Homo sapiens: one gene and its partners. The protein of the gene in region 1 interacts with the protein of each later gene in a pairwise test. Each region holds a gene or a part of one and is shown in the gene's direction. Other genes may lie near its edges. The genes, in order: SPATA7, NPHP1 and PTF1A.

Evidence for each region.
Region 2: the proteins of SPATA7 (region 1) and NPHP1 interact in a protein complementation assay, tested with the Homo sapiens proteins (one study listed by IntAct).
Region 3: the proteins of SPATA7 (region 1) and PTF1A interact in a two-hybrid assay, tested with the Homo sapiens proteins (one study listed by BioGRID).

The regions. Positions count from the first base shown.
Region 1 is NC_000014.9:88,388,642-88,392,392, forward strand, and holds part of SPATA7 (spermatogenesis-associated protein 7), read left to right. Parts: intron 1-2,739; coding exon 2,740-2,814; intron 2,815-3,751. UniProt on the Homo sapiens protein: Involved in the maintenance of both rod and cone photoreceptor cells.
Region 2 is NC_000002.12:110,198,339-110,202,089, reverse strand, and holds part of NPHP1 (nephrocystin-1), read left to right. Parts: intron 1-595; coding exon 596-669; intron 670-3,751. UniProt on the Homo sapiens protein: Together with BCAR1 it may play a role in the control of epithelial cell polarity. Involved in the organization of apical junctions in kidney cells together with NPHP4 and RPGRIP1L/NPHP8. Does not seem to be strictly required for ciliogenesis.
Region 3 is NC_000010.11:23,190,645-23,194,395, forward strand, and holds PTF1A (pancreas transcription factor 1 subunit alpha), read left to right. Parts: upstream 1-1,667; 5' UTR 1,668-1,886; coding exon 1,887-2,670; intron 2,671-3,059; coding exon 3,060-3,262; 3' UTR 3,263-3,601; downstream 3,602-3,751. UniProt on the Homo sapiens protein: Transcription factor implicated in the cell fate determination in various organs. Binds to the E-box consensus sequence 5'-CANNTG-3'. Plays a role in early and late pancreas development and differentiation.

The DNA.
Region 1 (3,751 bases):
AGCATTTTAGGAGGCTGAGGCAGGAGCATCACTTGAGGTCAGTGGTTTGTAATCAGCCTGGGTAACATAGCAAGACCCTGTCTCTAGTATATAAAACAAATTAATGAATTAATTAAAAAGATAAGAAAACTGTATTTGGTACCTAGAATTACGGGAAAGTACTCAAAGAAGGACAATTTGAAAGAGAGTTTCTCCCAAAGACTGGGGTTCAGACCTCATTAGAGAAGGCGTGATTGTGCACTTGCCCAAAGCTTCATCACCGAGGAGTGATATCGGAGGCTTCACATTCCATGGGAAATAGACTTTGATAAATTGCTTAGCCAAGTCACTAAACAAACAAGTGAACAACAATGAAAACAAGCTCAGGAGAGGATTCTGTATCTAGAGTTGCTGCAATATATTACCTAAAATGTTAACTTTTCAACAAAAAGAAATTGCAAGTCATGCAAAAAAACAAAAACAAAAAAACAGGAAAATGTGACCTATACACAGGACACAAAGGAGGAACCAGAAACTATGAGAGGGTAGATGAATTAAATCGTCTTATTTCTCCCCTCAATTCTGTTAGGTTTTTTTTTTTCCTTTCTCTTTCTTTTTTCTTTTTTCGAGACAGGGTCTTATTCTGTTACCCAGACTGGAGTGCATTGCAGCCTCCTGGGCTCAATCATCCTCCCATCTCAGCCTCCTGTGTAGCTGGGACTACAGGCACACACCACCACACCCAGCTAATTTTGTATTTTTTTGTGCAGTTAGAGTTTCGCCATGTTGTCCAGGCTGGTCTTTGAACTTCTGGGCTTAGGTGATCAGCCTGCCTCAGTCTCCCAAAGTGCTGGGATTACAAGCACGAGCCATTGTGCTCAGCCCTAATTCTGTCATTTTTAATATGACATGTATCTATAGGAATATTAGAAACCAATGAGTATATGCCTTGGTGTACGTCTGATGGTAAATAGACAAGGGAACATAGACATCAAGGAACATCTAAATTCCATGTTTGTTCTTATCACCATCTTATGCTAAAGAGCAGCTGGATTGATTCCTGGGGCCAAATATTAACCACCTTGTTCACAGCTGTCACTTACAGATGGGTGGGGAAGCATTTCTATCCAGAGCATTATCACTAGGTTCCAGCCTTTTTTCATTCTCTTTTCATCCTTTCACACTTCTCTGGGTATACCTGTTTTTCCTTTTTCTGTGACCTATAGTGAAACATACATAGAATAGAATGGAATTTGGAGGGAATAAACTACATACAGCTGAGATATCTTCTTGGTCTGTTTCACATGATTTAGTAGCTTAGAACATGGTTCAAGTACTGAGCAGTTTATATTGGTCAAGATAGTGTAATGATTAAGACCCAGGAAACAGACTGCTTGGGTTCAGATCCCAAATCTGTCACATTCTTGTGTAATCTTTGGCAAATTACAAGTTTAACCTCTGTGCTTCAATTACCCTCATCTATAAAGTAGGGAGAATTATAGTATTGTAAGGATTAAATGAATTTATACCAGCAAAGTGCTTGGAGCACTGCCTGGCAGGGTTACCACTCAATAAATTAGCCTTTTGACTACAAATGAAGAAATCAACTCATACTGGTTTAAGCTAAAATGGGAATTTTTTTTTTTTTTTGGCTAATGTAAAGAAACGTCTAGGGAAGGAAGAGCTTCAAACATGGTTGGCCTCAGGTACTCAAATGATGTCACCAAGAAATCGCTTTCTATCTTGGTTCCACTTGACTGTGTAGGCTTCATTCTCAGACAGGTTCCTTTATAAGGTTCAGGATGGCCACCAGCAATACAGGGCTTGCTTAGACCCTTCACTGGGTTTAGCAAGCCCAGTGAAATGAAAGTACCTTTCCTAATAGTTCCTGTCAAAGGCCCAGGATTGTGTATCTCATGTTGGGACTTGGATCGCATAGCATTGCTGACGCTGTCAACACAGCTGTCCACATTTGGGTTTTATGCCTAACCCTGACAGTGGGGTCAGCTCTATTTGAACCACCTGGGCTAAGAGTAAGGGAAGAGTCGCCCAAAGGAAAGTTGAGTTGTCATTTCCAGGTGAAGAGGCATTGAATTCTGGACAAGAAAAAAGTCACAGTTCTTTCTATCTGGAGAAATGAGGTTTTTCTGAGAGTTTGTTGGTATTTTTTCTTATGTTTAGGTCTTACCCTCCTTCTTTCTTGGTAGAAGCTATGCTCATTTCATGACTATCTTTTTTCCCAGTTCAGATGGCATCACCTTGACTTGTATTGTCCTAAATATTTTTTTCCTTCCTGCACTCTGACCTGTGACATAGAAAGAGCTTCATAGATATTCTGACCTCAGTTTGTTTTTCTGTTTTAATCTATTCTGACAAGCTTTGTTCTCTGGTCTTAGATTTTAGTTCTCCTAGCTCGATACTTCTTTTTTCTATATTTAGTCATCCATATATCTTCTAGACTTTCTATGTGTCCTCCTTGTTATAGCTTTTAACAGCCCACCTGATAGCAAACTAGCCATCTTACCCTCTTAAAACATCTCTGTTTGGGGGATAAAGCATTTATATTTTGCATATTAAATTACATTTAATGCTGTAACTCAGACTTCCTGTTTTGGAGATTACTACTAAAAACGCAATCACCTTTTAGGAAAGAAATTATTTTGTGATAAATTTATTATTTAAAAAATATTGAATATTGTTGTTTTTGTAAAAGTTGTGTTTCATTTATCCTAATTTATGATTTTTTTTTCTTGTTAAAAGTCAGAGCAACCTCTGTCCTTCCCAGATATGGTCCACCGTGCCTATTTAAAGGACACTTGAGCACCAAAAGTAATGGTAAGTGAGGTGCTTAAAACGGCAGCTTTGTTAGAAGATTGTCTGAGTGTTTCCTTTACTGGCAAATTATATGACATGATGGAAAAATTGTTTCATTTGACGAATATTTGAACTTCATATTATTAATTTTAATGAAATATAGGCGTTCTTGAGATTAGAGAATTTTGGAGTCTATGATTTCAAACTATTATTGTGCCCTGGATGTGGACTTGGCTGTCTCCTGCTCCCAGCTGCTACAGCAGCCCAGCTCTACTTTTGCCAGGAAACTACCCTGATTTAAGGCATACCTGCCTTGTTAAAATGGTGAGTAGCAGGTATTAAAGACGCAAGCACTGAAAAGGAAAAGCTGTGCAGAGAAAAAGAGCACTTGAATAATACATTTCCTATTAGGAGCAAAGGCCTATGGGCCTCTTTATCCAACTGGATTTCTAGGTGCTGTGATATTTTTATATTTTAAAGCTTTCAAGGTACATTTTTAAGGTAGGTTTTAAAATAAATTTTTGTAATTATACCTTAGAAGTATAAGTCTATGTCCTTAGGCAAAATAATTAAAGCCTTATTTTCCTTATTTACAGGAAAAATCTTTGATACTGTTACCTCCAAATGTGGTGGAAGGATCTCATTTTCAGTTGCCTCACTTATTTCTTTGTATTACAGTGTATTTTTTAAAGTTTATGATTGTGGCTATGTATGTATGTAACATATATATGTATGTAACATAGCCATAATGATAAACTTTAAAAACTAAATTTTAAATAAAAAGTTAAAACTAGATTTAAAATATACATACATAGAAATCAGGATAAAGAACAATATGTAAAGTTTGCTAACTTTCTTTTAAAGAATATATATATAGAGCTGGTATAGGTATGGTGGTTTTAAGTATGAGGCTGCCTTGGATCACATGGAAGCTGCATCCTTTATCAGCAGTGTAACC
Region 2 (3,751 bases), on another chromosome or scaffold:
GGAAGTATCTCAAAAACATGCTTTGTGGAAAGGTTACACAAGAGTGCTTACTGTATGAGTCCATTTATATAAAATTTCAAGAACAGGCAAAACTAATTTATGTTGGAAAAATATCAAAACAGGTTTGTCTGTGGAGGAATAAGGAGGGGATTTACTGGCAAGGGCATGAGGGAACTTACTAGGGTGATGGTAGTTTTCTACATCTTGATAAGAATTTTGGTTACACAGATGTATGCATTTGTCGAAACTCAGCAAATGTATGCCTCGTATTTGTGCATTTCACTATATACATATTTTACATCAACTATTGAACTTTAGTTAGTGACATCCATAGTCCATTATTTAGGGAGAAATGTATTGATAACTGCAACTTACTTTGAAAGGCATAAGGTGGGTTGACGGATAGATCAAATAAGTATAGTATAATGTTAATGTTTTTTCTAGGTAGCGGGTATATGGGTTTTCACTGTAAAATTTTTAAAACTTTGTTGTATGTTTAAAAGTGTTCATTATAAAATATTGGATAAAAAAAGAAGTTTTCTTTCCTAAGGCGATATGGTATTTAATAATGTGATATTTTAAATGGTCTCCATAGGTTGATAGTTTGCTTTCTGAGAGCCAACTGAAAGAAGCTCTAGAACCCAATAAAAGACAACATATTTATCAAAGGTAAAGTATGCTAAATTATATAAGCTTTACAGGAACCGCACTTACATTTCAATGCATAGTATTTAAGGCATAGAGATTGGTCCTTTGGAATCAAATGGAAGAATCACATAGTGTTGTAAGTTGAATGTAGAAGAAACCAACCTAAACCTGATGGTTGCGGACTTGCTGTTGTGACAGCAACTATAAAAACTGCTTAATGTAAACATAGGTGACATGGGCAGGATTACCCTAAATCCTTAGCCTATGTAGCCCAGATCCTGTGACCTGGTCAGAAACCTCTGTCTATAAGCAATTAGTACTTCATTGGGATGTCAACTTTAACTCCCATGAGAAGACAACACTGTTTTCTAGGTGGGTGTTTTTTGTTTTGTATTTGTTTTTACTTAAAAAAAAATCCTTGGGAGAGTTTAAATAGACGTGATGAACTACATCAAATTTAGACTATTAATTCATAACATTTGTATTAAGTTTAGGACATCATTAAGATAATCTTTGTTTTTGAGATATTTAAGGATTTTATTACATTCCAAAGAACATGAGATTCATTCTATTAATTTAAGTGAATTGTAATTGTTTGGAGAAGTTTTACTTAAGTCAGGCATTCAGAGTGCTTAAAGGCAAAACAAATGAATTTTGAAATGTCAAATGAATTTAATTTATAATAGTAGGATTGATTAAGGGATTTAGTTCAAGCTGAATTAACAGTAATGAAAGAAAAGCAAAGGTTATTGTTCTTGCTTTACTAGATTTAAAAACAGAGTAAGATTTATAGACTGAATTTGAAGGCCAAGGGAAAACTACGTTTTTAAATTTTATGTTAGTAAACTAAAAATCATAATTATTATTATTTTATTTTTTGAGACTAAATCTCACTCTGTCACCCAGGCTGGAGTGCAGTGGCGCAATCTCGGCTCATTGCAACCTGCACCTCCCAGGTTCAAGCGATTCTTCTGCCTCAGGCTCTTGAGTAGTTGGGATTACAGTCGTGCCCCACCACACCTGGCTGGATTTTGTATTTTGAGTAGAGATGGGTTTCATCACGTTGGCCAGGCTGGTTTCGAACTCCTGACCTCAAGGGATCCCCCAGCCTTGGCCTCCCAAAGTGCTGGGATTATAGGTGTGAGCCACTGTGCCCAGCCTAATAATTGTTATGTTTTATTTTTTTTGAGATAGAGTCTCTCTCTGTCGCCCAGGCTGGAGTGCAGTGGCATGATCTCGGCTCACTGCAAGCTCCACCTCCCAGGTTCAAGCGATTCTCCTGCCTCAGCCTCCCGAGTAGCTGGGATTACAGGTGCCCGCCACCATGCCTGGCTAATTTTTTGTATTTTTAGTAGAGATGGGGTTTCACCGTGCTAGCCAGGATGGTCTCAATCTCCTGACCTCATGCCCCCTGCTTTGGCCTCCCAAAGTGCTGGGATTATAGGCGTGAGCCACCGCGCCCGGCCCCTAATAATTATTTTTAAGCCCAAGTAACCATAGTCTTCTCTGTGCATGAAAAGAAGATTGTTACTGTCATTTAAAAACTCACTTTGACATTTGCATATCTGAAAATGTCATTTAGGTATCATTTTTATCTGCTCAGTGCTCTGAGTCTTTTCAGTTTGAAAACTCATGTCTCATGAGCTCTGGGAGATTTTATTTTACAAAAAGATTATTTCGTTAATTCCATTTGTCTGTTTCTTCCTGAAACACCTTTGAGTCAGGTATTGGATATCCTGGACTGATCCTCTATATCCCATAACTTCCTGTTAATAGTTTCTGTTTCTTTGTTTGTATGGGAGATGTTTTTTTGGGGGGATGTGGGGGGTCTCACTCTGTCGTTCAGGCTGTAATGAAGTGGCACAATCATGGCTCACTGCACCTTCTGCCTCCCAGGCTCAAGGGATGCCCCCCTCCCCCGCCACGAGCTACCATGCTAGCAATTCTCTTGACTTTAACACTTTTCTTTATTACCTATTTCAACAGCCATATTGTTTTATTTCAGCAGTCATATTGGTTTTTTTTTTTTTAAGATGGAGTCTCACTCTGTCATGATCTTGGCTCACTGCAACCTCTGCCTCCTGGGTTCAAGCGATTCTCCTGCCTTAGCCTTCTGAGTAGCTGGGATTACAGGCTCACGCCATCACACTCGGCTAATTTTTTGTATTTTTAGTAGAGACGGAGTTTCACCATGTTGGCCAGGCTGCTCTCAAACTCCCGACTTCAGGTGATCCACCCATCATGGCCTCCCAAAGTGCTGGGATTACGTGAGCCACCGTGCCTGGCCATCATCAGTCATGTTGTTAATTTACAAGTGTTTTCTCTTGTTCTCGAATTGTTCTTTTTTCATAGCATCATGTTCCTGTTTTCATATTGATTGCCTTCTTACTACTTCCATGACTAGGAGGCTTTTTTTTTCTCCTTAAGTTCTCTTCTGTTCTCTGAATTGTCTTTGCTTTCTCTGGGCTCAGATTCCTTTTAATTAGTTAATTAATTAATTTATATTTGGTTATTCTTAAATTTTATCTTCACGTTGCCGGTTTTCTTTATTAGGTCTGGCTTATCTATTTTTATTGAACAATGAGGGACTAGGTTGATTATTCCAGAGAGCTCTCATGGGCTTTTCTACTGTTAGATAGAGAGGGGTCCTTCCTGCTAGTACCATCCCCTGAATAAGAATGAAATTTTGTATGTTGATAGGGCTTATCAGAGGCTCGGAAGTAGCTTTTAGTCTGAGGATCCCCCAGTGCCAGAATAGGGCCGGCTCTAACCCTGGTGTATGGGAAACTTCTTTAGCAGTCATGATTCTCTTCAGGTCGTTTGTTAATTGTTTTTGTTTGTTTTTTTGTTTTTAGGGAAGAATCCCCTGGTAAGGAGGGAGAGCAGAGAGGGGAAAAGGGAGCTAACTGGCTCAGGTTTTCTGTAAATAGACTTTTAAAAGAAAGAACCCCAACTAAATCTAAACGTAATCAGTATCATTAATCTTCCCTTGACTAATATAAAGACCTTAGATTGCTTTAACATTGATTTCCCTCCTCAAAGCTTAGATGTATGCATATGATTTAATTTACACAATATAACACAATAATATTAGATAATTTAT
Region 3 (3,751 bases), on another chromosome or scaffold:
GAGAATCACAGCTCAGGCTCTATCACCGGGAAACTGTCCATATTTGCCTTTAAGGATATGCAAATAGTGAACGACTCCTTCACTGTGAAGGCTGAGAAACTAACACAGGAAAAAACTACTGAAAACCAGTCAGTCCTTGGGTTAAAATTGTTTGGGGTTGTTGGCAGTTCAAGGTAAGGCAATCTCTGGCCTTCTAACCTTATATATCTTTTGGTTTAACTCTTTGTTCTCAATTCAGTTAATTACAGTGCAATGTCTAAAACCAAGAAGCGTATTTAAATCACTAATCTGAAGAGGCATGACTTGGAATTTGAGAGGCGTCTGAATACCCAACAGAAGCCTCTAGTGAGACAAGTGCCTGAAAAAGGAAGCGGCCCAGGAGGACGACTCCTTTCAGTCCTCTGTAGAGAGAATACGCACGATGGCTGCGCTTCTGAACTCTCCCGGGGTGGAAGCTGCAGCCTGGCTTTTAACCGGAATTGCCCAGACCTTGAAAGTGTTTCTTTGTTGCTCTTAAAAAGAGGAATTCACGTTGCATCGCAGTCTGTGATAAAGTCTGTCTTGGGGCAGAGCTGCATACGTTTTGTGTTTTTTTTTTTTTTCAGAAAAGAAAGGTCGAGAAAGAAAAAAACAAGTCATTCAGGGATGGTCCCTGTGGCCAGTCGGAAAGGTGAGAGACTCGGGCTTTGAAAACGATTCACATTCTGCCCTTTAACTTCAATGCCTTCCCTCCGGACTGCGCCGGAGCAGACGATTCAATGGACTCCTTTTGTATCCAGTTTATTGCTCAGAATCCCTAGGGTCTAGATTTGCTCTCAGAAGAAACGCGCCCCGCTGAGCTGCTCTGGGGGCTGCCCCTCCCGTCTCCCCATTCCTTTCTCCGGGCCGGGGAGGGCAGGGGAGGCAGCCACTGAGCCGATGTCGCTGGGGACCCGCACCAGGCACCACAGCCAGGCTCCAGAGCGGAGTCCCATAGGTGCGCTCCCAGCCCCCGTGTTGCGTCTGGAACGCAGTGGGAGTGGGCCCGGATCACCTTCCAATGACACCCGCATATACTCTGCAAACTGTGCAAAAGCCCTTGAAAAGTCCAGAGATGGGACAGAAGCCCCCAGCAGAACCCAGGCCGGAGCCCCGCGCACCTCGGATAAGGGGGTGGCGGAATGCACCCACCTGGTCCCTGAGGGCAGCACCCTTAGATTGCCCAGGCTGCCGCGGAGGAGGACGATCGCCGCGCGGGCTCCGCTCTCGCCGTCTGGGCCACCGGCGCGCACCCCTAGGAACTTCTCTGGCCGCGTGTAGACGCGGCGCGCGGCTGCCCCAGTCCCAGGGCGGAAGGAGCCGGCGCTGCTCAGCGCGCGCGGGTACGCAGCGGGCACCGCGGGACGCAGGTGCCCCTGGAGCCGCACGCGGGGCAGGTACAGAATCCAGTATGCAGAGGCAGAGGAGAGGGAAGAGAGCGGTGCGAGGAGCCCCGGGCCGCGCGACCCCGCCTTTTCCTCGCCCCAGGAGCTCCCAAAGGGAGCAAAACGCCCCCCACCCCCGCCCACCGCCGCGCCTCCGGGCCCCCTCGCCGCCGGCACACCGCGCTCTGATTGGCTGGCGCGATGGGTCCCTGGCACGCGCCTATGGATGTTGTTATAAGAATCCTCGCGTGCCGGCCCTCAGCTCCAGGAAGTCCGCCACAGCCCTCCCCAGCGCAGCGCGAGCGCGGGCCAGAGCGCAGCGGCCGCGGGCACTCCAGGGAGGCCCGGGGGCGGGCAGCCCGGCGGCCGCCTAGCTGCCCCCAGCCAGGGCCCCGGGAGGGAGGGGCTCGGACGGGCCTTAGAAACTCACCAAGAACTAACACGCGCAGCCCGGCAGTCCCGCTGCCCACTGCGGCGGCGAGCATGGACGCGGTGTTGCTGGAGCACTTCCCCGGGGGCCTAGACGCCTTTCCTTCTTCGTACTTCGACGAGGACGACTTCTTCACCGACCAGTCTTCACGGGACCCCCTGGAGGACGGCGATGAGCTGCTGGCGGACGAGCAGGCCGAGGTGGAGTTCCTTAGCCACCAGCTCCACGAGTACTGCTACCGCGACGGGGCGTGCCTGCTGCTGCAGCCCGCGCCCCCGGCCGCCCCGCTAGCGCTCGCCCCGCCGTCCTCGGGGGGCCTCGGTGAGCCAGACGACGGCGGCGGCGGCGGCTACTGCTGCGAGACGGGGGCGCCCCCAGGCGGCTTCCCCTACTCGCCCGGCTCGCCGCCCTCGTGCCTGGCCTACCCGTGCGCCGGGGCGGCAGTACTGTCTCCCGGGGCGCGGCTGCGCGGCCTGAGCGGAGCGGCGGCTGCGGCGGCGCGGCGCCGGCGGCGGGTGCGCTCCGAGGCGGAGCTGCAGCAGCTGCGGCAGGCGGCCAACGTGCGCGAGCGGCGGCGCATGCAGTCCATCAACGACGCCTTCGAGGGGCTGCGCTCGCACATCCCCACGCTGCCCTACGAGAAGCGCCTCTCCAAGGTGGACACGCTGCGCCTGGCCATCGGCTACATCAACTTCCTCAGCGAGCTCGTGCAGGCCGACCTGCCCTTGCGCGGCGGTGGCGCGGGCGGCTGCGGGGGGCCGGGCGGCGGCGGGCGCCTGGGCGGGGACAGCCCGGGCAGCCAGGCCCAGAAGGTCATCATCTGCCATCGGGGCACCCGTAAGTGCTTCCGCTTCCCAGCTCAGGGAGAAGGGGTCGGGCACTCGAAGGCTCCGGAGGGGCTGGGGGAGCTGACTGCCAAGCAGACAGTCGGACCGACGGATTGTCGGTGGGCACGGAAAAACTTGAATGCGAGCTCGCGTTTCTCGTTTTTTTTTTTTTTTTTATTTTTCTGCCACGTTGACCGCGGCTCTCAAGGGCGCGCGTCCCCGCCAGACTTGCAGCTCCTCGGATTCCTGGGAGGGGACGGTGGGGACTTGAAGTGTGGAGGAAGAGGGTGGTTCTAGTATAACCGGAGAGCACCCAGGAAAGGGTCCTAAAGGACCTGATGGGACCAATGGGAATGTGGTTGGATATTCACAGTCTGTTTTCTCTTCTCACCTGTCCAGGGTCCCCCTCCCCCAGCGACCCTGATTATGGCCTCCCTCCCCTAGCAGGACACTCTCTCTCATGGACTGATGAAAAACAACTCAAGGAACAAAATATTATCCGAACAGCCAAAGTCTGGACCCCAGAGGACCCCAGAAAACTCAACAGCAAATCTTCCTTCAACAACATAGAAAACGAACCACCATTTGAGTTTGTGTCCTGAGAAGTCCCAGACTCGGCTGAAGATCTGATTATGTCTCTGTGCATATTGTACATGTAAATATCTATAATGTAAATGTAATTTAAGAATCAAATTTTTCGAATGGCAATCAACTGTTTATTATTTATCTATTTATTATCCTGTTGAGTTGATGAAATAGATGATTTCTTTTTAAATATATAATTTATATAACTTATCCTGATTTTCTGAAAATATGCAATAGCCTATGATTTTCCTGAACTCTGTGTTGTTGGGAGAACTCTGGCCAGAAAACGTCCTGCTTATTTATTGCCAGATATGGTTTATTTCTAAGCGTTGTCAATAAATGCTATTTACACCTTTTCCTGAAGGTTTTTGAGTACATGATTTGATAGATACTCTTTAAAAAGAATTAACTTAGTAAAAATTAACCAAACCAGAGACTCAAAGTGTAGCTTTTTAGTAAGAAACTACATTTCAGACTTAGCCTAAAGGTGGGTAGGTTAGAGGATT